2 separate regions of the Homo sapiens genome follow, and region 2 is linked to region 1. The links come from fine-mapping of genetic effects on gene expression. A gene starts in region 1. The other region holds a variant in brackets. All regions are shown on one strand. Distances are from middle to middle. Region 1 holds the start of NKAIN2 (sodium/potassium transporting ATPase interacting 2). Region 2 overlaps NKAIN2 (sodium/potassium transporting ATPase interacting 2).

Region 1 (11,998 bases):
ACCCTGCTAAGGTGCTTGCTGAAGGCAAAGGGAATACAGAATGGATAGTAGAAGAAGGCAGTCATCAATACCAGCTATGACCAGGTGACCTGCTGCAGCTATGGGGACTGTAATTGTCATGAGTTATTTCCTCCTTCTTTTGTTAAAAATATGTTTGTGCTTGTATACACTTGTACTAAGAAAATATCTTCATTTTATTTCCTTTCTCCTTTCCCATGTGACATAAGAGTTTTTGACTTCACATGAGCATTTAAGTGTTGTTAACTTTATGTAATAGTGTTCGGGTTGGGGATTGGTGGGTTTCCGTTTGTATGAAAGATAGCTGTATTATGTTAGGCATAATTATGACCTTATTACTGTCATTATTTGAAGATTATGTATGATATCAGGAAATGCATATGGGTTCAAGTTGACAAAGGTAGACTTGTGATGGTTAATACTGAGTGTCAACTTGATTGGATCTAAGGATACAAAGTATTGATCCTGGGTGTGTCTGTGAGGGTGTTGCCAAAGGAGATTAACATTTCAGTCAGCGGGTTGGGAAAGGCAGACTCACCCTTAATCTGGGTAGACACAATCTAATCATCTGCCAGCTTGGCTAGAATATAAGCAGGCAGAAAAATGCGAAAAGTGAGACTGACCTAGCCTCCCAGACTGCATCTCTCTCCCATGCTGGATGCTCCCTGCCCTTGAATATCAGACTCCAAGTTCTTCATTGTTGGAACTCGGACTGGCTCTCCTTGCTCCTCAGCTTGCAGACAGCCTATTGTGGGACCCTGTGATCCTGTGAGTTAGTACTTAATAAACTCCCATATATATATATATATATATATATATATATATATATATATATATGGCATATATATAAAACATATATATATAAAACTCCCATATATATATAAATATATATATATTCCATTAGTTCTGTCTCTTTAGAGAGCCCTAATACAGCATTGCTCTAAAAGTTTAACTTAGTTGATGCTTACTAAATTCTCCCAAAAACTCTATATGTGCATTATTACCCCTCCCATTTTATAAATAAGAAAACCAAAGCACAAAGAGCTAAGCAATTTACCTAAGACTACATAGTTGATAAATGGCAGAGCTTGGATTATGAAACTCAATGTCTGGCTGCAGAGTCCATGAACTTAATAGTTAATAACCTGGATACATGTTTTTGGTCTATTGTCAAGTGAAAAAAAGCAGGTTAAAAGATGTTGTGCATGATATCACCCTATTTTTGTTAGAAAATGGTTTGTATAAAAATGACATCAATTATCTCTGGATGGAAGAATTGGTGGCTATTTTCATCTTATATGCCATTAACATTTAAAATATACTATCATTTTCCTAATCATTATCCAAACAAGAAAAAAATCCATGTTAATATAAAATATATAATGTGTACAATGAGTCAAATAGGTTGGTTTTGTGATTGTAAAGATGTGATTATTATGCATCCTATGCCTGTATCGAAATGTCTCCTGTACCCCATAAATATATACATCTACTATGTACCCACAAAAATCTTCAAGAGAACTAATTTTTGCTTTCATGATTTAAAATAATGAATGGAGGCAATAAAACTCAGTGAAATTGTTTAGCAGAGTTGCAACGCCAAGCTTGAGCTTTTGGTGTAGCTGAAGTGATTGAGTGTTAGCAGTCTGTAACCCGGTTCACTCAGTGGCTGTGTGCCTACTGCATTGCATGAGTTGTTCTGAGAGATAAATGAGATAATAGATCTGAAACAACCTTGAAAACTACTTTAAAACAGTACGGGAAGGTGAGGCAGATGGAGGTGTGGAATGTGCAGCACATTTTCCCCATAGAAACAAGGCAATTCACAATACTTATGTCACCATATTAGTCAACAAAAGGTCTAACACCTTATATAGCAAAACAGTTTATGACCTTATTTCTAAGTGAAAATGCAATCAACATTCAAATTGGAGACATCTCTCTCCTTCACAAACGTCTGTGGAACTGTTGGGATTCTCTTTTTAGTCTCTTCTACTAAGACACTCAGTTCCAGGAATAATAGAAAACAGAATAGGAAGTGCATAGCCACATTAAGTTATAGAATTGCATCTATAACTAGGGTGCCCTTTCATAAGTCAGGCATTGCCTATACTGTATGTAAAGGATGTGATGCCAATTTAGAGATAAAATATGTGTGATTATTCTTCTAAATATTTTTGTCATCACTTTCGTATGGAATTCTAAAAGAATGACAGGGAAGTATATTGAAATAAAGGAGTGTGGTACAGTAGTTCGAAAAGCGAATTTTGGTGTCTTATAATCATGCCCTTCAAATTCTAATTCTGCCGCCAAGAACACGTGCACCCGTGATAAAAATATTTGATTTCTCTCTGAGTTTGTATATCTTTAGAATGTGCATTGTATCAACTCATGTGTTTCCTGTGAGGAATGAATGAGACGATGTAGGTTTAGTACATAAGGCAGTAGTTGCACATAGTGAAGTCTCAACATTGTTTGTAGTTCACACTTCTGAGAACACTGTGCCAATGACGTCAGATGAGGTATAAAAGCCCCTGGAGACTGCCTTAGGTTGGGATTCTCAAGAGGCAGGCTCTGACACAAGGATTTGAGTGGTTTATTTCAGAGGTGATCCCAGGAAGCAGTGGTATGAAAGCAGGGAGATGAGGCATGGAAGGGAAGGAAGCCAATTCAGAGCGCATGAATGAGCCAGTTACTACTGTGGACACCTAGGGCTCAATCTCGGTGGGGACCTTAATGGTGTAGACTAGAACATGTCTGACGGTTTCCCATATGAGGATTGAAGAAGCTGGGGTATTTATCCTCCAATTCCCATCCATTATTGCGTGAGGGTAGCTCTTAGGGCTGGAACCTTATTGTTCAGCCAAGCACCTCCAATGGCTAGAAAACAGACTGTCCCAAGTGATTACAAAAACGCAAGCATGGACTGAAAGGGCACAGTCCAAGAACTATGGTGGGGCACTGCTGGAGTCAGCTACAGATAGCATTCTGCTTTCCTATACAACCTAAAGATTACTCAGGCTATTGCTGGTTGCAGGGAAACCTCTGCAGGATTACGGAGGGATCCATATAAATGTGTTGTTCCTATGATTAATTTGAGGAGGTAATAGAATGCTTTTGACAGTATGGCAGCAGCTTCTTCAACAGTCAATTAACTTACAGCTTTCTGTTTGGCAATGCAAAATACCCATAGCCCTAGCAGGTACAGGACAGCTAACGTGTATAAAGACAGAAGAGCAACTAAGAGAAACATTTTCCACTAGATAACTGGCTTCAGTTTTACCAAAGGTTGTGGAACTATTACCTTCCAGGCTTTGCAGTGCCTAAGAGCACATATTGGGCTCTTGGGAATTTTATTAAACATTGAAAGACACTTTTCAGAAGAAAAGCCCCTTTACAAATGGGTCGATTAAAACCAGACATTCTCATTATAGCAATAAAATATCTGTGCTCCATAAATTTAACAAAGTTAATCCCTTTTTGGCTCCCTAGGACTGACGAAACGTTTCTGAAAATTCAGTGCCAGGCTCTGGAGAATAGTCTCTCTGCCCTATTCAATTTATTTGTATTTAGTCATTCTGATACGTCATAATGTTTATTCAAAGGAAGCAATCATTCGGGATCCTTATTTGTGGTTCCCAGCATAACTTTATCCTGTATAAATGCCATTTTTCTCAGTAGGCGCCAAGTTCCAGTTGCTACAGAGAGCTCTCTGCTTGATGTGGCTTCGTCATCTTAATCTCTTAAGAAGGGTGCTAGGGAGCTGTTTGCTATTTAGCTCCCTAAACCATCCTCTTATCAATCGCGACACTTCACCCCAATGAGTCAGTTCCTCAGTGGATCTCAACAAATAATCTTCACTTCCTGGAAAAGTTAGGATTGCTTTCCTTAGCTGCCAGGGCTAAAAAGGAAACTTGGTCCTAAATATCCACGCCCCAGGGGCAGCCACTTGGGCCAGCATGTTGCGCCCTTCAGCTTTCCGCCCGCAGGTGGCAGCAGCGGGCTCCGAAGCCTGTCTCTGCAGGTAGCAGCCGCTTCACAGCTTTCAGGCCGGTGCTCAGCGGAGGCTGGTGCATCTCCACTAGGAATCCACACCCAGCTGGGACTGCTGTGAAGCTGAAGTAACTGAGTATTAAACTAGTCTCCGACTCTTTAGTATTTTAAGTGAAAACAAACAACAGTTTGAAGCAGCAACAGCAACTCATTGCATCCCTATTCCCTCCGGTTGCTAATTTTTCCCAACTCCAGCAGCAACTCGGTCCCCTTCCCCAAGCAGGGTCGGCTCCGTAGCTCTCCGCGCTCCGACCCTTCAGATCCTCGGGAGCCCAGGGGAGCCAGGTGCTGGGCGGTGCGTCCGGTGCCGCCGCGCCCCTTCTCGCCACCTCTGGCCTCTCCGCCACTCGGGCTTTCCGGCCGCTCTGGATGCCTCGGTTGCACCCCTGTTCCATGACCCCAGCTTCCTTCCCTAACCCTCCTCTTGGTCCCTTCTCCCCCGAGCGCGCGCGCACACACACACTCGGTTCGCTCCCGCGGAGTGGCTCTGGGAGCACGACCGACTTCAGCTCAGCAAACCGCGGTCATGCCGCCCAGACTCCTCGCCCCGAGGCCCCGGTCCCCGCCGCCGCCGCTTTCGCGCCGCTCCTTTCCGCCTAGACACCGCCGCCTGCGGCCGCCTGGGCGGCAGCCCCTGCGGTCCTCAAAGTTGGCCCCCTGGGAGGGGGCGGCAGGGAGCAGGATGAAGGATTTGTTGTAGGAGGAGGATTCACACATCTGGGCGAAGGGAGGGGCAGCGCCGCTGCTGGGACGCGGCGCGGACCCGCATCATTGCGCGCAGCAGCCGCTGCAGCAGCCGCCGGGGACCGCGGAGCCGGGACGCCCCCGCTCGGCCCGCGCCCCGCTCCCCGCCCCACCCCCGCCCGCCGGGCCCAGCAACGCAGGGTGCCTAGGAGCCGCGGGCTGCGCAGGGAGGCGGGCAGCGGCCCTCGCGCGCTTCTGCCGCCCCCGGAGCCGGCGCGCGGCGAGCGCAGGGCGAGCGCGCGTCGGGCGGCGGCCGCGCTGGGGGGCGTGAGGCGAGCGGCGCGGAGAGCGGCAGGGGCGAAACTTCGCGGGCCAGATGCCCGAGGGCGCGGCGGCGCTGCCAGGCTGCCGCTGCTGCCCCTGCGGGCCCCGAGCGCGCCTCCGCAGGCGGCACTGCCCGCGGCGCGGCGTGTGCACCGAGCGAGTGAAGGTATGTGTGGCGGGCGCGGCTGGAGCTGCCGCCGCCGCCGCCGCCGCGCCAGCAGGTCCTAATGCCTGTCACTTCCCAGGACGCTGGCAGCAGCAGCAGCCCGGAGCCCCCGAGCCCTCGGCAGGTTTGCGTGTCCTTCCCCGCGATCTGATTGGATAAAGTGGGGGCTCGACGGTGGCCGACGTGGGACAGTCTGGCTGTGGCAGGGGTCTCGGAAACCATGGGTTATTGCAGTGGCAGGTGCACGCTTATCTTTATCTGTGGCATGCAACTGGTAAGTGACACTTGGGTCCCCTTATTCTGTAATGTGTCTTTGAGATAGTGGGCAGGGGAGTGCAGCAAAGGGTCTGCCATTGACTAGAATGGACGAAAAAGATAAAAGAGAAGGTGACAGATATATTGCCTATATTGAAGATGATTTCAGGGAGACGCACTCTGGGGTACAGGAGAGGTGAGCCTTTCCGTTCCCACCTATTTCTGTCCCTTTTAAGACAGTTTGGCAGGTGCGGGTTAAACTTGTCTTTAATTTCTTTAGGAAAAGCAAGATGTAGCTCTTGTTCTTTATGCTTTGCATTCCTATTCATGTAACAACGTGATTGTCACCTACAATTTACCGTACAGGTTGTTAAACAGAGGAATACGGAATTTTGGACTTTTCTTCTCTATACTAATTTTGCAGTATCTTTGTTTCTTCATAGACATGTTTTTTTTCTTTTTTTAAGGAAAATGTTGTCTTTAAGTATAATGCTCTAAAAAAACCACTGTTTAGGGCACATGGTATCCTTACAACAGTCTAATTTAGACTGTTTGAGTTTTAGCCACATTGAGTTTTTAAAGTATGCAGATTGAACAAAAATACTTAGGTGAACTCAGCAACACCATTGTCATAGACGGAACCAGTAACCTTTAAATCACAATTAACACAGACAATTCCAAGAAAAACTATTCTGTCTTACATTATGCATATTATTGCTCCTGAAATAGATACTGTTGTCTGATCCTATAGGATGGAGAATTCTATGTACTTTTTGAGGAATGTTGTACAGTTGCAAAGGGGCAAGGAACCAATAATGGAAAACGTCATGTCTCTGAATTTCAATTCCCTAAGGGCAATGGAAGGAGGGTCTGAGTAGAGAGTTGAGAGGTGAAAAATACACCACTCTAAGTGGTTAATTTGAGGTAGGAGCTACTTGCTCACACTTGTCATTAAATATATTTCCTTAGAAAGTATAAATTAACTGGAATAGTCATGTCCGTTTTCAACAACTGTTTCATAAAGGTTGAAGTGACTACAAGGCAGAAGATGTTTAAGTGTCCAATCAGTAAAGTGTTCAAAAGAGCAAGGATTTGCCATTGAAACTGGCAGAGGAATTCCTTAAGTGTTCTTGTTTATCAGTTGTCGTGAAGCCCATGAGTGTTAGTTATTGCTGCTTTGTTTAATATTTAGCTGAAACAGTGCTTTTTGTTGTGTGTTGTCTTAGGATGTTTTTCTTTCCCCTGAAAGTTATCTGATGGTGTCTATTTTGATCTGTGATTTATGCGCTTATGCACTTGGTTGTAAGACAAAGATGGAACTATAAATGTAATTTTCAGAATGTGGTAGTTTCTCAATGATGTGTAAACCAGTTTATTTTTCTGTACCACAGATTCATATAAGTTTTGCAATGAAGGATTTTTACTCTTAATAATAAAGCTAACCAAAACAATGAGGGAGTTTACTTTGTTAAACAACCCATTAGGCTAAGTCTGCCAAACTGTATAAAGGTTTTCAAAACATTCTTATTTTTATATATTATTCAGAAAAAGAATACATTTGCTGATTCACTGTGTGAAAGCATAAAAATGTGAGAATGAGTGGGTGTGTAGATCATTCTTATGCTCTTTTCGATTTAAAATTTGAAAAATGTGATTTAACTTCTAATCATGTAATATAATAGGGCTTTCTTATGGCAAATGTATGCACTAGGTCTGTATGACATTTTGTGTGATGAATACAAACTCCTCAAGAACTTAATTTTAGAAAAACATAAATATACCAGTAGGGAAGCTATCTATTCAAAGTAGAATGATAAAGCTAAAGGTTCCTTTGTGTTTTTATGTGCTCACATATGTGTGTATGTACATATGCTCTTGAGTACATGCATGCATCCATACATACAATGGTGTCTTGGAGAGTTGCACCATCACTTATGAAACAGAAATTCTGAATTATAATTAAGTTCTCTAACAGAATAGACGTAGCTGTAATACAGAAGAGCACAATCTAAGTAAGTGTACATTGGAATCCTAAGGAGTTTTTATATTATATGAGAATCATGTGATTTTTCCCATTCAGACTTTATGTGCCACCAGGCTAATATAATTAGCAGCCATGTTAACGCAGATGCAGAACAAAAAACAAAGGACAAAGAAAATGCAATTGTTTTGATAGGGTGAAATGATCACACCTCAAAGGACCTCAGAGATTCTTGGTAATTGTTGCTTTTTGGAAATACGGTATTTGATTTTAAATAAAATAATTCTTTTGCAAATTAATAGTTGCAAAGCCCTGCACTAAAAAATAGGTGGGTGTGTATGTTTTCCTTTTGCTCTCAATAGATTTTTAAAAACTTTTTATGTCTTTGCGCTATTATGAGTAGATTGTTTTACAAATAAACCAGGTTTCTAGACTAAGTTATGACTCATGTACCATTGACTGAAATAAAAGTTAACCCAGTTTTGTTTACTTCTCAAGTGTTTAGTATGTGTTCTTGTAACATTTGGGCATCTTTTTTTTGGTAACTGTACAGGAAAAAAGGCCAAAGAGACTCTAAGTTAGAAACTTTATTCAGTTGCTTTATTATGTGACTTGATTAAGGTTCTGGAAACATTAATCTCCAGTCCTCGGAGCAAAGTATTTGTATTTTAAATAAATTTAAGGGAATATTTACATCTGTACCAATTTGCAGCTAATCTTAGGAGAGGATGAGGTGGCTTTTGGTATTGTGGATATGGTGATCTCATTTATTAAGTTATTATCAGACCAGACACGGTGTTTTGACCATTTAACAATTGAGGGACAGAGGCAGATTCTTCAGAGACATTTACCTGTCAGAATTCTATATCTGTGCTTTAAATTAGTTAAATATACATTTAATTTAATGTTTGGCAGACTACAAGTATTGATAAACATATACTCTTCTCAAAAATCAGGAGATCCGTTTATAAAACAAGAAACTAGAATTCCATACCATAGAGATTCATACAAAACTTCCATTTTATGAAAAACTGTTTCCATATATATCATAAATTAAAATCTTTGAGTTGTATGGTTATGCCAACTTCAGATTTTAGGGTGATTCCTACGTAAAGGAGTATGATCTCTGGAAACAGATTTATTCCATGTGCAGAATCCAGAGCTTAAGCTCATAATCTCAAGAAGGTAATTTTCTTTTTATCATTGCTGTCCTTAATACTCAGAAACTGAAGATTTCAGATAGTAACAAAAATCATCACTGCATTTGCAATGGTGGATGTAGTGGTATAGGACAAGAAGTTTTTAACTTCTTATTTACTATTTGTAACTTTCAACTTGTGAAAGTTTTGGCATGTTTTCCCCAATGTTTGATTGAATCAGAGTTCTTTTATAAATGTGGAAAAAATTACTCTGATATCTCTCAGTGTGAAAAAATACGTTAAAATATGAAAGAATATAACTTAATTTAGACTGAAAGGACAGATTTGTTTTCAAGTAAGGAAACTCAAAATCCCCTATTTTGTACTTTAGACTTCTGGGTGGCACAAAACATGTCATAAACTATTGAAAGAAAGTTTAGATTTACACTCCACAGAATAACACTTGAAAAATGCCACTATTGCCATGGGCTGTATGAAATATTGTTAACTTGGAGCAGGTGCAACTAACAATTAGGTTAGTACACATTGTGTGTGCAGCTGTGTGAAGGAGTACATTTGAAACTTAATTAAGAATGATCAGTTACTTTCTATCACAGGATTGCTAACCATTTTCAAAGGTACATATTTTTTTTCCTTAAGATGTTGTGAGTGTAGACTAAATTAAAAACAATTTTATTATAATTATGGAATATTTCAGTGATCATGATTTTATGCAGTGTTCATAATCATGTGCTATTTTATTACTTTTTAGAAAATAAAGCGTTGCTGTGAAGTAGCTTGAAAAGTGCAGGTAGAATCTTATGATATTCCTGGTATACTTCTGACAAGTTTGACGGTTTTTCAGAAGTTTATAACTTTATCTGCCACAAAACTTCCTGGCTCAGAGAATTTTAACTTTTTAGGATTCAGATGCCATTGATGATAAAATCTTGAAGTTGTTAACCAAACTTACTCATGAAGAAGACTGAAAATCCCCATACAATACTTTAGAAACTTATCATGTAAAAATATGTTGAGTTTGCTAAGTTGTAAAATGATAACTTTCTTCTTTTTAAATGTTTTCTATTTATGCATCCTGAATATTGTTGCACATGGTTTTGTTTTTAATTTATTCTCACTGTAATTCAGCACTACTCTTCTCTGCCTTATATATACCAGGAGATACCTAGAAACTTCTTCCAGTGTCCAACTCTTCTTTCTTCGTTCACAAAGCAGGTAGCGACTTATTTTCTTGAATACAGCTAAAGTTTCAAAAAGTCAACCCATGTGGAGCTGTTCTCCTGCTTTCTCAAATAAAGGCTTGGATGGGCAGCATTTTTTCTGCAGAGTGCCAGAGTCATCTCTGGCATGGGGCCCGTATGTGGGTAATGACCCAGAAATGCAAATGTGCTTTGCTACCTCCTTTCCCTCTGATGCTGCTTTACTTTGAGGTCAGATTCTCTACTTGCCCAGTCAGGAATTTCAGAGTGGAAGTCAGGGATTCCTTAAAATAGGAAGTCTTTATTTTTTGTTTTTTATTTTTAATATGTGTGTGCTTGAGAGAAATAAAATCTGAGAGACAGAAACATATTTTAACATTTCTATGTTGATCCTGGAAATATAAATACAAAAGTTAATGGCACCAATTGCATTAAATATTCGTATATACAGATAATGCCTACAATTCCAAAGGTTGTATTTCAGTTATGTTATTTGGTAGAATTTCAAACAGTGCAGTATACTTTTTTCATAAGCAGTTTTGAAACTAATATTGCTATTAATGGAAATTACCCTATTTCCAATAACATACAAATGTCAGAAATGAAACACACACATAGGAAAAATATTTGTTTCCCATTTTTTTTCTGATATAATGAACTCTTCTGATTTTTGTTATTTTTTTCCCCTCATGGAAACTTGATTGTTGTTTATTATCAATATAATAAAATACATAAGCCATCAAGATACAATGTATGTAGGGCTACCTTTTTTCATACAATGATAGAATAAGTACTCTATTTATTCCTAATTTCTATAGGATGGAAATAAAATTATATGAAGCATTTGTTCTTACCATTCCCAAGAGATTAAAGCACATTTAAAAATTATGAAGGAACAAGATAAACTTCTATATCATTTTCTTTCTCCAGGTTATGGTAGAAATGAAGTTTATAACTTGGTTTTCTCCTCTTTTAGTATTTCAGGAGTTCATATTTTGTAATACTGCTGTGCACATGTGCGCACGTAATAAATTTGTTACGCTTTTTCTTTTGTTAAAAAATACTTCAGTTGTGTTTAGATATAAAATGCTTAATATATAAAGAAATTACTAGCTTCATCTTCCTGAAATAAGTATTTTTCTTTTTCTTTCCTTGAATTATAAAACAGGCAGTGGGTCTAGCTTATAGGAATATTCTAAGATTTAATCTTATGCAGGTATAGACTCTTTTTGTTTTTCCAACCTGAAATAAGAATAAGGTGACTTCAAAAGCTTATGATTTTTACCCTTTCAGCTAGTTGTGGATCACATGCTAACTTGATCCCTGTAAAAACTCCTTGAAATGCTACATATAAACTGATTTTTAAGTGCATTTTGAAATAAATTTTTTCATTTCATACATTTTTAAATAATTTGTTATGCATTTAAAAATCTAGTTTTATAAAATAATAATGAAAACTATTATTTATTGGAAGCTTGTTCTTGGCTAAATATGTTTTTTTTTCCCCCCACTGAATCCTCTCTGGTAATCCTATGAGGCAGGTAATAGATATTAATATCCTCACTTTACCAGGGAGGAGATGGAGGCCTTGAAACGTTAAGCTGTGTTTTTAAGTCATCCTCTTAGTAAGTGGAGAAGCTTGGATTCAAACCCGGGTCTGTCTGAATCTCAGCCTGACTCTGAACCTGTGCCACACTGCATCCCTTCCATGTAAAATAAAACTATAGCAGCCTCTCATGTTTTTTTTTTCTTAAAGAAAGTAAGTACCTACCTACTAATTCCTTAGTGACCCATTAGTCAACACTTAGGTTTAGAGAGGTGGGGTTGATTGATGTCAGGCTCCTGTCCAAACCTGACCGACTTAGGTAATCTTGGGGTTTGACAACTATGAGCAGCTGGTGTATGGACTAGAGAATAAAAGGGCAGAAGGGGAATCTCCTCGCTGCAGAGCAAGTATCCATTGCTGTTCTCATGCATTTGGGCCAACTTTTGACAGATAACCATGAAATAGGGTCTTGGAAATTTGATATGTAAGCTTAAAATGTATTATATGGAAAGAAAAAATATATTCTTTTTTTTTTTTAAATCCAGCTCTTTTTAAAACCACTCCTTGATGAATGGCCAGTGCACAGTATTGTTATTTGCCTGTTTTTTGTTT
Region 2 (11,998 bases), 370 kb after region 1:
GTGTCTAATTCGATTCCAAGTTTTAAGAAGTTGCACAACATCCAATAGACACATGTTATTAGTAATGTTGATTACGTAAGAGTAAATCTTTTTTTCTTTCAATTTATGTGCATTATTTTTTTCAAATTGCTACTCGGGTAGACCATAAGTATGTTTTAAGTAGTGTGGGCTTAACTATTAAACTGGCGGTCGTATTACAAAAAATATTCATGGAGTGCTGTGAAAAATTATAAGGCAAGTGGATCGCCACAAAACCAGAAAATTGAGAGTATTCTTTGTTAATTTGTTTCTTATTTTAAAGTAACAATGTGCATCTTATGTGCTTCACAATATGCTTACATTGGTACAAGTAGGGGTTAGAACAAATCATGGTACATTTGTGACAGAATATTAGGTTTAGAGCCATAACTTGATTGTTCATTTAAATGACTTTCATGGTCAGAGGTTCTTTTTCTAGACAATCTTGTAGGGTTTTAGAAATATTTCTTATTAATTATAACTAATATCTTGTAAAATGAAGATTACTTTATTACTTCTTTAAGGCCCAAAATTTCTTAAGTGCTAAAGAATACTTTAGTGGTAATCTGTGTCTGTGGCTCTTATATTTTTGGTATTGGTGAAAAGCATTTATTGTGACTATAAAAATTTTAAACATTTTGAAATATGTGAATATGCCTTGAAATATATTAAGAAGCTTTCTTTAATAATAGTTTTCCCAAATTAGAAGTGCACTGTCCCTTGAGGAAAAATTGGAATCACTAATTATGGGCTTAATAAAATGTTGCTAATAGGCAGGAATGGTCAGCCCTGAATTAAAACTTCTACTAGTGAGAAAATATGAATGAATGTAATTCTACATTTTATTCAATTTCCTTTTTTGCTATATTTTCCCAATATACCAGTTTGTTTGAAAATGATGTGTTAGTAAAATATGTCCTCCAACTCTAACAATCAGTTTATGTATTTTTTTATTTTATTTTATTATTATTATACTTTAAGTTTTAGGGTACATGTGCACAATGTGCAGGTTAATTACATATATATACATGTGCCATGCTGGTGTGCTGCACCCATTAACTCGTCATTTAGCATTAGGTATATCTCCTAATGCTATCCCTCCCCCCTCCCCCTACCCCACCACAGTCCCCAGAGTGTGATGTTCCCCTCCCTGTGTCCATGTGTTCTCATTGTTCAATTCCCACCTATGAGTGAGAACATGTGGTGTTTGGTTTTTTGTCCTTGCGATAGTTTACTGAGAATGATGATTTCCAATTTCATCCATGTCCCTACAAAGGACATGAACTCATCATTTTTTATGGCTGCATAGTATTCCATGGTGTATATGTGCCACATTTTCTTAATCCAGTCTATCATTGTTGGACATTTGGGTTGGTTCCAAGTCTTTGCTATTGTGAATAGTGCCGCAATAAACATACGTGTGCATGTGTCTTTATAGCAGCATGATTTATAGTCCTTTGGGTATATACCCAGTAATGGGATGGCTGGGTCAAATGGTATTTCTAGTTCTAGATCCCTGAGGAATCGCCACACTGACTTCCACAATGGTTGAACTAGTTGACAGTCCCACCAACAGTGTAAAAGTGTTCCTATTTCTCCACATCCTCTCCAGCACCTGTTGTTTCCTGACTTTTTAATGATCGCCATTCTAACTGGTGTGAGATGGTATCTCATTGTGGTTTTGATTTGCATTTCTCTGATGGCCAGTGATGGTGAGCATTTTTTCATGTGTTTTTTGGCTGCATAAATGTCTTCTTTTGAGAAGTGTCTGTTCATTTCCTTCGCCCACTTGTTGATGGGGTTGTTTGTTTTTTTCTTGTAAATTGGTTGGAGTTCATTGTAGATTCTAGATATTAGCCCTTTGTCAGATGAGTAGGTTGCAAAAATTTTCTCCAATTTTGTAGGTTGCCTGTTCACTCTGATGGTAGTTTCTTTTGCTGTGCAGAAGCTCTTTAGTTTCATTAGATCCCATTTGTCAATTTTGTCTTTTGTTGCCATTGCTTTTGGTGTTTTAGACATGAAGTCCTTGCCCATGCCTATGTCCTGAATGGTAATGCCTAGGTTTTCTTCTAGGGTTTTTATGGTTTTAGGTCTAAGGTTTAAGTCTTTAATCCATCTTGAATTAATTTTTGTATAAGGTGTAAGGAAGGGATCCAGTTTCAGCTTTCTCCATATGGCTAGCCAGTTTTCCCAGCACCATTTATTAAATAGGGAATCCTTTCCCCATTGCTTGTTTTTGTCAGGTTTGTCAAAGATCAGATAGTTGTAGATATGCGGCGTTATTTCTGAGGGCTCTGTTCTGTTCCATTGATCTATATCTCTGTTTTGGTACCAGTACCATGCTGTTTTGGTTACTGTAGCCTTGTAGTATAGTTTGAAGTCAGGTAGCGTGATGCCTCCAGCTTTGTTCTTTTGGCTTAGGATTGACTTGGGGATGCGGGCTCTTTTTTGGTTCCATATGAACTTTAAAGTAGTTTTTTCCAATTCTGTGAAGAAAGTCATTGGTAGCTTGATGGGGATGGCATTGAATCTATAAATTACCTTGGGCAGTATGGCCATTTTCACGATATTGATTCTTCCTACCCATGAGCATGGAATGTTCTTCCATTTGTTTGTATCCTCTTTTATTTCCTTGAGCAGTGGTTTGTAGTTCTCCTTGAAGAGGTCCTTCATGTCCCTTGTAAGTTGGATTCCTAGGTATTTTATTCTCTTTGAAGCAATTGTGAATGGGAGTTCACTCATGATTTGGCTCTCTGTTTGTCTGTTATTGGTGTATAAGAATGCTTGTGATTTTTGTACATTGATTTTGTATCCTGAGACATTGCTGAAGTTGCTTATCAGCTTAAGGAGATTTTGGGCTGAGACAATGGGGTTTTTTAGATATACAATGATGTCATCTGCAAACAGGGACAATTTGACTTCCTCTTTTCCTAATTGAATACCCTTTATTTCCTTCTCCTGCCTGAATGCCCTGGCCAGAACTTCCAACACTATGTTGAATAGGAGTGGCGAGAGAGGGCATCCCTGTCTTGTGCCAGTTTTCAAAGGGAATGCTTCCAGTTTTTGCCCATTCAGTATGATATTGGCTGTGGTTTTGTCATAGATAGCTCTTATTATTTTGAGATATGTCCCATCAGTACCTAATTTATTGAGAGTTTTTAGCATGAAGGGTTGTTGAATTTTGTCAAAGGCCTTTTCTGCATCTATTGAGATAATCATGTGGTTTTTGTCTTTGGTTCTGTTTGTATGCTGGATTACATTTATTGATTTGTGTATATTGACTTCAGTGATGCATTATAGATTCAGTGATTTTTATGTACTTAGGTAGCCTCTTGAATTGAGCTCCTGAAACTTTGCAATGTAATGTTTATCAAAGTACATGTGACCATAGAGATATATTTCTAACCATTTCCTTCTCTTTTGAGAATCCAAAACCCATGTGGTACCCACATAAAAAACCAAGCATTTATTCTGCCTCAATGCCACATTATTTGTCATTACATTTGAATCATAGGTGAAGAGTTTGAAGCAAAATCAAATTAGTATCTGTCCTGGTTTATCATCTCTTTGCAAATTGGACATTTAATTTTTTTATAATAGTGCACAAGTTCATATTACATCATTGTCAGTTTGTATTAGTATTGCTATATATGCTGGCCATAAGTCTGTAAAATTTGACAAGTTAACTGAAGGACTAATCACCTGAAATGCATCTGACCAGTAAAGATACCATCAGAATGATCATACTTTAAGTTTCCAAAAATGATTTGGTGTTTCTGGGAATTTTAGCTACAACAGAATTTAATGATGGTTCAGAATTATATGATATTGTAGTATGGATACTCTTGTACATACACTGAATTTGAAAGAGACATTCTTGTCTATACATGGAATATTGAAATATTAAAATGACAGTTATCCATGGGTTATAATTTTTTCTTTTGTGAAAAATGCTAAATATTAATATAACAAAAGTTAAAGCCTGTTAATTTTGTGTGTGTGTGTGTGTGTGGTCTACACACTAAGAATGACATATCTAACATAAAACATTCTTTGAGTAATATGAATTTTAGAACCATTGCCTGTGTGTTGGCCAGTTCACACTTAATAAATATTTAGGTATTGTGAAATTAGCTCTAATACCAACATATTATCTTGAAAGGAGAATCAGTCATCTTAATGATAGTAACAGCCTCTTGTAAATTTTATTAAGTATATTAAGAACAATTCCTTTGGTTGAGGCAAAGTTTAACTTCCAAAATGATGTAAGGTGAATGATACTTCAGAGTACTATTCTTTTGCACTATTTACAGGTTACAGTGTCAAACAGAATTATTGGCATATTTTCATTTTAACAATCGGAATATTTGGAGGCCCATGGTTCTTTGTCAAATATTTGCGTATATTTTAGTAAAGCTAGTTAAAAAATTCACAAAACAAGTAAAATGCTCTTCTTGTATACTTTTGACATCAGTATTTCTCATGTTCAATATGTGCTTTAATATTGAATGTTCAGAATTGGATGTGTGTGTATATGTGCACAGACACATATATGTACATTTAAATTTTGATGTTTATTATCCAGTATAGCACTGTGCACCCAAAGATATATAACATTACTTAATGATAAATTTCTGTGTTTTTTTCTAGTATTATCTTGCTGATAATAAATATACATAGTCTCAAAAATTTATTTCTCTTAGATCTAAATAATATTCTTTACATTCTGAGAAATTTGCATTTGATAAAATTTGGATATTGAAAGAGGCTAATTCTGCTCTTTTCACAAGTTTATCTTTTTGCAATCAAAGTAGATAAAGATTATTGCTCATTAAGTATTAAAAATGCCAAGCAGTGGGATTTGCTACAGTTTCACATTGATGGCTGATCTAGAATTGCTACATTTTACAATCCATGGCACATATTTTAATATCTCTTAGTTCCTAAATATAGTTTCTCAAATTAAATTAATTTAGGCAAAAAGATAAGTTCACTGACTTACAGAAGTTAACTTAAGGAAATAATTAAGCACCTCACCAAGCAACCAGGCTTAAATTCTACTGAGACCCTCTCATTGGCCTGCCTTGCTCCTTTCCTTTCTGAGCCATGCTGATTCTTAGTGCGTATGTTTTTTTTCTCCATGCACTTTGAATGGAAAATCTTATCTCCATGCACTTAGGATGGAAATCTTCTTAGGTGGAAAATCTTACCTCTGTTTGCTTCCTGGTTTTACATTCTGCATCCTCACCATTGGGGTGGAACGGACTTTCACCCCAGACTCACTTATTCAGAAATCGCAGAGAAAGAGCCTCTTTGGTCCATTTTGGGTCAAATGCTCAGCCTTAAAATGGTCAGCTTGGGCCGAGGCCTAAGTACTGTAATTAAATAGATTTAGTTAGGGAACTTTGGGGTTTTTATTAAGAGTGTTTCCTTCCCAACAGTAGCCACATCATTTAGGGGCTGAAGTGAGGAAGGACTTCCTAGAAGAATGGGGATGCAAACCATTTTCTGAGTTCAGCCTTCTTTTCTTCTTGCTGAATCTCTATTCCTGTAAATCCTCACCAGGGATGCTTCCTTATTTCATGCAGATCTCAGCTCAAATATCACCTTTCCCTGCATTATTGTCTAATATTTTGTACTCCTCTTTGCACTCTCTCTTTTTCCACTGC[T/C]TTATTGTTCCTTCACAACATTGCTTGGTGTTATTTAAGTGTTCCCTTGTTTATTTTTCTACTACACTGGGAACAGTGTACTGAACAGTGAACTTGGCATATTGTACGTATTCCAGAGATATTTGTTGAATGAATATAAGGGAACACTATGCCATTTCCATAGATATTTTTTTCTATTTACCCTAACCTGAATTTCTCTCTGCTAAATAGAAAGTATGCAGGGAGAAGTATCTCTGATGTATGGCAAAAGAATGTCAAGACAAAATCATTAAATGTAATGGCTAGAGTTGGACAATGAAAGTGTGCTGTAACTCATTAGAGAACATTTCTCTGTATCATTTCTTCCCCATATAGTAACTGATTTTTTCTTAAATAAAGAGATAGTGGCTTCTTGGATTCCACAAAATCCTTTGATATTTTCTATAAATACAGTGAATTTGGCCTCAATGAAGCCACTTTTTATGTCCAATATATGCATTTAGAATACGAAAGTATAAATAGCAAAGATAGTAATATGTGTTTTAGTTCCGTGGATGTTCCTAATAAACATTCAGGTGATACCTAGGGTGTTTATATTTAGCTAAACTGACTAGATAATCCAGTCATATCTGTGGTCTCTTTCGGTAAACTGATAATTTTCTGACAAAATTTATCACATTTGACTCATTAGTTCTTTATAAGTTTTTTCCCCAATTCAAAGCTTACCTTTTCACTCTGGTAAAATGCTCCTTAAAGAAAATTTACCGTGATTTCTTTAGAATTTTTGTCACTATCTTTAAAAAACAAATTTTCATAATTGTGAAGGTTTTTTTTTAGAAAATTTCATTTGAGATGTGTGGGAAAGAGGTTAAAACAAATAAAGTGAAGACTAACACTCAACTCTCACTTTTCCACTAAATGTAAATTTTATCACAGTTTCTATACCCTCATCCTTGTCATTAGGTATTATGCTTTTTTGCAGCCATATTCTTAAGGAACTTTTTTTGTTTTGTTTTGTTTTGGGAGCTAAATTCTGTTGGCAGAAAGACAAAATTTTCCCGTGTTCTGCTCTCTAGCATATCTTTCTAATTTTAAAATTTTAGGACCTAGAGATTTTCATCTCTTCATTTTGACCATGGTAATTTGAAGTGAAACAGCAAGATTTGACATAAGAATAAAAGATATAAGTTAGAAAATTCATTTCTGCAGTTTATTCGGATCCATTCTGGAATAATTTTTCCTCCTATGATAGATTCTTAAAGCAATTAGAAAACCAAGATTTTGTGATATTACTAATCATAAAACAATGTTAAGTTTTCGTAAGAGAGGGCCGATTTGATTTTTTTTTTTTTTTTTTTTTTGAGACAGAGTCTTGCTCTGTTGCCCAGGCTGGAGTGCAGTGGTACCATCTCGGCTCACTGCAACGTCTGCCTCCCGGTTCAAGCAATTCTCCTGCCTCAGCCTCCCAAGTAACTGGGACTACAGGCACATGCTGCCACGCCCGGCTAATTTTTTTGTATTTTAGTAGAGATGGGGTTTCACCGTGTTGCCCAGGCTGGTCTCGAACTCCTGAGCTCAGGCAATCCGCCTGCCTTGGCCTCCCAAAGTGCTAGGATTACAGGCGTGAGCCACCGCGGCCGACTCTTTTTTTTTTTTGAGAGAGAGTCTCGCTCTGTCGCCCAGGATGGAGTACAATGGCATGATCTCCACTCACTTGCCTCAGCCTCCCAAGCAACTGGTACTACAGGCACATGCTGCCACGCCCAGCTAATTTTTTGTATTTTTAGTAGAGACGGGGTTTCACCGTGTTAGCCAGGGTGATCTCCATCTGGTGACCTCGTGATCCGTCCGCCTCGGCCTCCCAAAGTGCTGGGATTACAGGCGTGAGCCACTGTGCCCAGCCCCCAATTTTTTTAATGATAGTGAAGTTGAACAAGTTTTTTGCATTTTTGGAAACAGATTTGAATATTTTAACTTTTTAATTCTTCTTTGAATAATTTGCATGTTTTTAAAAAACTCTTTCATGGAATACATGACTGGCTTTTGAAGTAAATTTGTTATATCAAAACCAGTATTTTCTCAGGTGAAGTGGAATGGAATGAAATAGAATTGAATAGAACACTGGGATAGAGTAAGTAGAATGTCCTGGTTGCAATATATTCCATGAATTTTGAATTCTAATTCTAACTACTGCTGTTTGGTGGGAGTTCTCCTACGTAAGTTTCATTTTATTATGGAGTGTATGTACCATCTTGCTCATATCAAATATTCCTTTAAATTCTATAAACCTCAAAATTTCCCTCTGTTTAATACAGAATATTGACTGCAATGATATCAGATTTTAAAAATCTGTATATCATTCTTGTGGAAGGAAGTATATATTCTTGTGGAAGGAAGTAAAAAAGTATATATTCTTGTGGAAGGAAGTAAAAAAGTTCCAAAGCCTGTTAGAATCTGTATAAACTTATGGAATCATTACTTCTTTTTGTTTTACTACATTAAATTCACCTTAAATTCAGTCCAGGTTTTTACTTTGAGATATTTCATATCTGAAATGGCTACAGCATTCTGTTGCACTCATCTGCTGGAGCTCAAGCAACTTATAAACATCTTTACATTAATATTCAGAAATCAGTTTCTATCATTTAATATGTAGTGTGGGAATAGTTCACATATAGAGTTTGGCTGTATCTTTGATTCCTTATCCTGTACCACATGAGCAAGATTTCTTCTTCTACACATGCCTTTGGAATTGCCTCATATACACTCAAAGCTTTCCATTTAAGCAATTTAGTGACAATTGCATTAATTCAAATCATAGCTGATTTTACAACTGAAGTAGAATATGATTGGGGATTATCTGAAGTCTCCTCTAAAACTCTCTCAGTTTAAATTGATGGTAATCTACTCCTGAATAATGAAATATTTCAAATTGTCTAATTGCATGATATAAAATGCATATACAATTGTATTAAGAATAATGATAAAATGAGAATCTCTCTTGCTCTTATAAAAGCACCATGACTAGTTTTTACATATGAATTCAAAATGATTCGGTTGATTCTTAACATTTCATAACACCAACCTGTTCTACACATTCATTTTAGCATATATTACTTTTAGTACGTGATTGGGAGTTTTACTGGAAATGTTTCTGTCTTCCAGTCTCTAACAGCTTTAAGCTTATATTCTAATTTCAGTAATGAAGTGAGATACCTATTCCTACCTCAAAAACTTCCCTTTCACAAAGACTAAATTTCCTCAAAGATTGAGCCTTAAAGAAGCAACAAGAAAGTGCATAAAAAATGCAAAGCTGATTCTTTGCATAATATTAATAGGCCCTTTGAAGAAACTGTAGAGTGAAAAAGGGATGGTGGTATTATATCTTGCTAAAGCTGCTCCAAATCAAATTATTTCTAAAATTATACTTAAAAACTAAATTTGATACTGACTTTATGATACCTATATCAAATATTATTTTATCTTGTTTTCTCTTGAAAGTAAGGAGAAATTGAAATAATTTGAATATCCCTCTTCTTTGTTATATAATCATCATTTTTGAAAGTTTTTTCAGGTTTGTGCAATAGAGTAGAGCAAGCAATATTAGATTGATACTTAGTGGATGGTTCTTATTCCTTATTTCTTCAAACTTCTCTTCAGAGTAAAGTTTTGATAATTGATAATTTTAATCATTGATTTCTAGGGTGATAGCTATTATTTTGGAAAATAAAGGATTAAAATTTTCATGCCGAAGGATACTGTTTACATTCATGTATAGCATGCAATAGGGATTTTGTTTATCTGGCCATTTTGAGGCAAGAAGGGATATTATGTTGAAGTATTCATTTCTTATTTTTAAAATCTGATATCATTGCAGTCAATATTCTGTATTAAACAGAGGGAAATTGTGAGGTTTATAGAATTTAAAGGAATATTTGATATGAGCGAGGTGGTACATACACTCCATAATAAAATGAAACTTACTTAAGAGAACTCCCACCAAACAGCAGTAGTTAGAATTCAAAATTCATGGAATGCCACAGAATCCTGAATTTGGAAGAAAATTCAGAAGTTGTTCATTCAAACTTCACACTAAAAGCACCTTTCAACTTTACCTGTTAATCATTCTAAACCAAACTTCCTCAAGTGTCTCCTTAAATAAAAGGCACACTTCTGGATTTAAGGAAAACAAAGATAAAAAGGTCACAATCTCTACCTTGCAGAAATTAGTTAGGGCAGCCTAAGTACAATGAAGAAAAACTCATAATTTTAGTAATTTAGCACAATAAAAGCTTATTTCTTGTTAAATAGATACAGGGGTAGTACTCTGTTCTACAGAGTTGTTCTGGGATTCAGCCTCCTTACCCTGTCCAACTCCACCCTTTTCTAATTCCTAGCACTCCTATTCATTCAACTATTCTTTCAACTAGGGAATGGTCAAAGAGAGTGAGGGCAGGATTGCATCAAGAGATTATTAAGGGTCAGGCCTAAAAGAAGGCACCACTTCTACTCATATTTCATTGGCCAGAATGTAGTCATATGACCAAACCAACTAATGAAAGAAAAGCAGGGAAATGTAGGCAACCTTGGTGTCCAGGAGGAAGGAAAAAATAGTTTAGTGACACATTGGTCAGTCCCTTTGAAAAGGTCTTTGCAGTTGACTTATATATCTCTGAAAGATTGTCCCTCTAGCTCCTTTTTGACCACTTAAATGTCACCACTTTAGTAAAATGTATATGTAAATTTGAAATTATCTGAGGACTTTAATAAAAATTTTAATTCACAGAATGATTCTCCTTTTACTTTGTGAATACCTGTATCTACCTTATTAAAATAAGGCCATTTTCAGTTGTAATAATAAATAGAAAGTGTGTTTTTAAGCACCATTGTAACTTGGGTTATCAAAAGGTGGGTGCTGAATGTTATTAATACTATTGATTTTCTTTGCACTTTACTTCTGTTAAGAAGCAGGAATCATGTGGCTCTCATTGCATAGACAGCGTGAAGTGCTTGTAGAAACTTGCAGTTCACCCTGAGTGACAGATCTACACTCACACAGACTGCATACTAGGCTGCACATCTGTATGAAGGCATTACTATTTGTAGGGAAAAAAAGAACAATATTATGCTTCAGGCCAGGAAAGTCAAATAGCTGAAGTCAATATTAAGATAGTTAGGATAATATTTCAGAAAAGATTTGCCTGCTTCACTTGGCGTAAATTTAAATAGTCAAACTTCCTAAACATTTAAAAGTTAAAACAAGGGCTTAAAATATATGATGTGAGTTTCACATAATGTCTACACTGCCTCTGCCTGTACCTAATGGGAAAATGAAAATCACTTACATGTTAAAGTCTGATTGGTTTACAAATTTCAATGACTACCCACTTAGTAGATACATCTATTGTTTTTATATCATTATTTTTATACAATGGGAAGTTACTAATATAATTTTTCCCATATCCCAACCTTTTACTCTTCCCCTTCTGTTTACAGGATGAACCCCAAAGTCTTTAGTTTATCAATTCAGATTTTTTTTAAATGTAGCCTCACTGGGTTTTCAACATTATTTTCCAATCTACGATTTGCTAAATAAACTTGTTGCTCCACCAAAACTGTTCTCTCCAAAGTTTGTGAATGTACATCTCTCTCTTGCCCTTTATTTCTCTCTTTCTCACTCTTTATTTCATCACATGTGTAGATTTATGTTATTGTAATCTGCTTTTTACATTTTTTTAAGTACTGACACTACTGTTCCATGCTGCCTCTCATGAGAAATTTTCTAGTTTATGCAGACTTACCTCAGAGATATTGTAGTTTAGGCTCCAGACTATCACAATAAAGGGAATATTGCAATGAAGTGAGTCACACAAATCTTTTGGTTTTCCAGTACATATAAGGGTTATACTATACTGTAGTCTATTAATTATGCAATAGCATTATGTCTAAAAAAGTGCATACTTTAAAATACTTTATTGTAAAAAAGATGCTGACAGAGACACAAAGTGAGCACATGCTGTTGGAAAATGGCTCTGATAAGCTTTCTCAACTCATGGTTACTACAGACCTTCGATTTGTAAAAAAATGCATTATCTGTGAAGTATGATTTAAAAAAGTATGCCCATAGTTTGGTTCCAGGACTAGCTAGTCTCTAATAACTAGCTCTACTGGTTATATTTTGAATTCTTTGGGATTTTCTATATACAAGATCATGTCTTCTAATAAAAGAGATTGTTTTATTTTGCCTTTCCAAATTGCTTTCTCTTGCCCAATTGCTTTGGCTAAAACTTCCAGTACGATGTTGAATGACAGTGGTGAAAATAGACATCCAT

Evidence for each region.
Region 2: its variant is fine-mapped to the expression of NKAIN2 in aorta (GTEx, PIP above 0.99).

The regions. Positions count from the first base shown.
Region 1 is chr6:123,798,736-123,810,733 of GRCh38, forward strand. NKAIN2 (sodium/potassium transporting ATPase interacting 2) reads left to right here and starts at 5,130. Exons shown (of 7, transcript NM_001040214.3): 1 at 5,130-5,519. The coding sequence starts at 5,466. RefSeq lists an enhancer at 3,886-3,935.
Region 2 is chr6:124,164,543-124,176,540 of GRCh38, forward strand. The region is part of intron 1 of NKAIN2 (sodium/potassium transporting ATPase interacting 2); the gene reads left to right. Among named protein-coding and RNA genes, the nearest start is that of NKAIN2, 370 kb to the left of the region's middle. The variant T/C (reference allele first, on the strand shown) is at 5,688.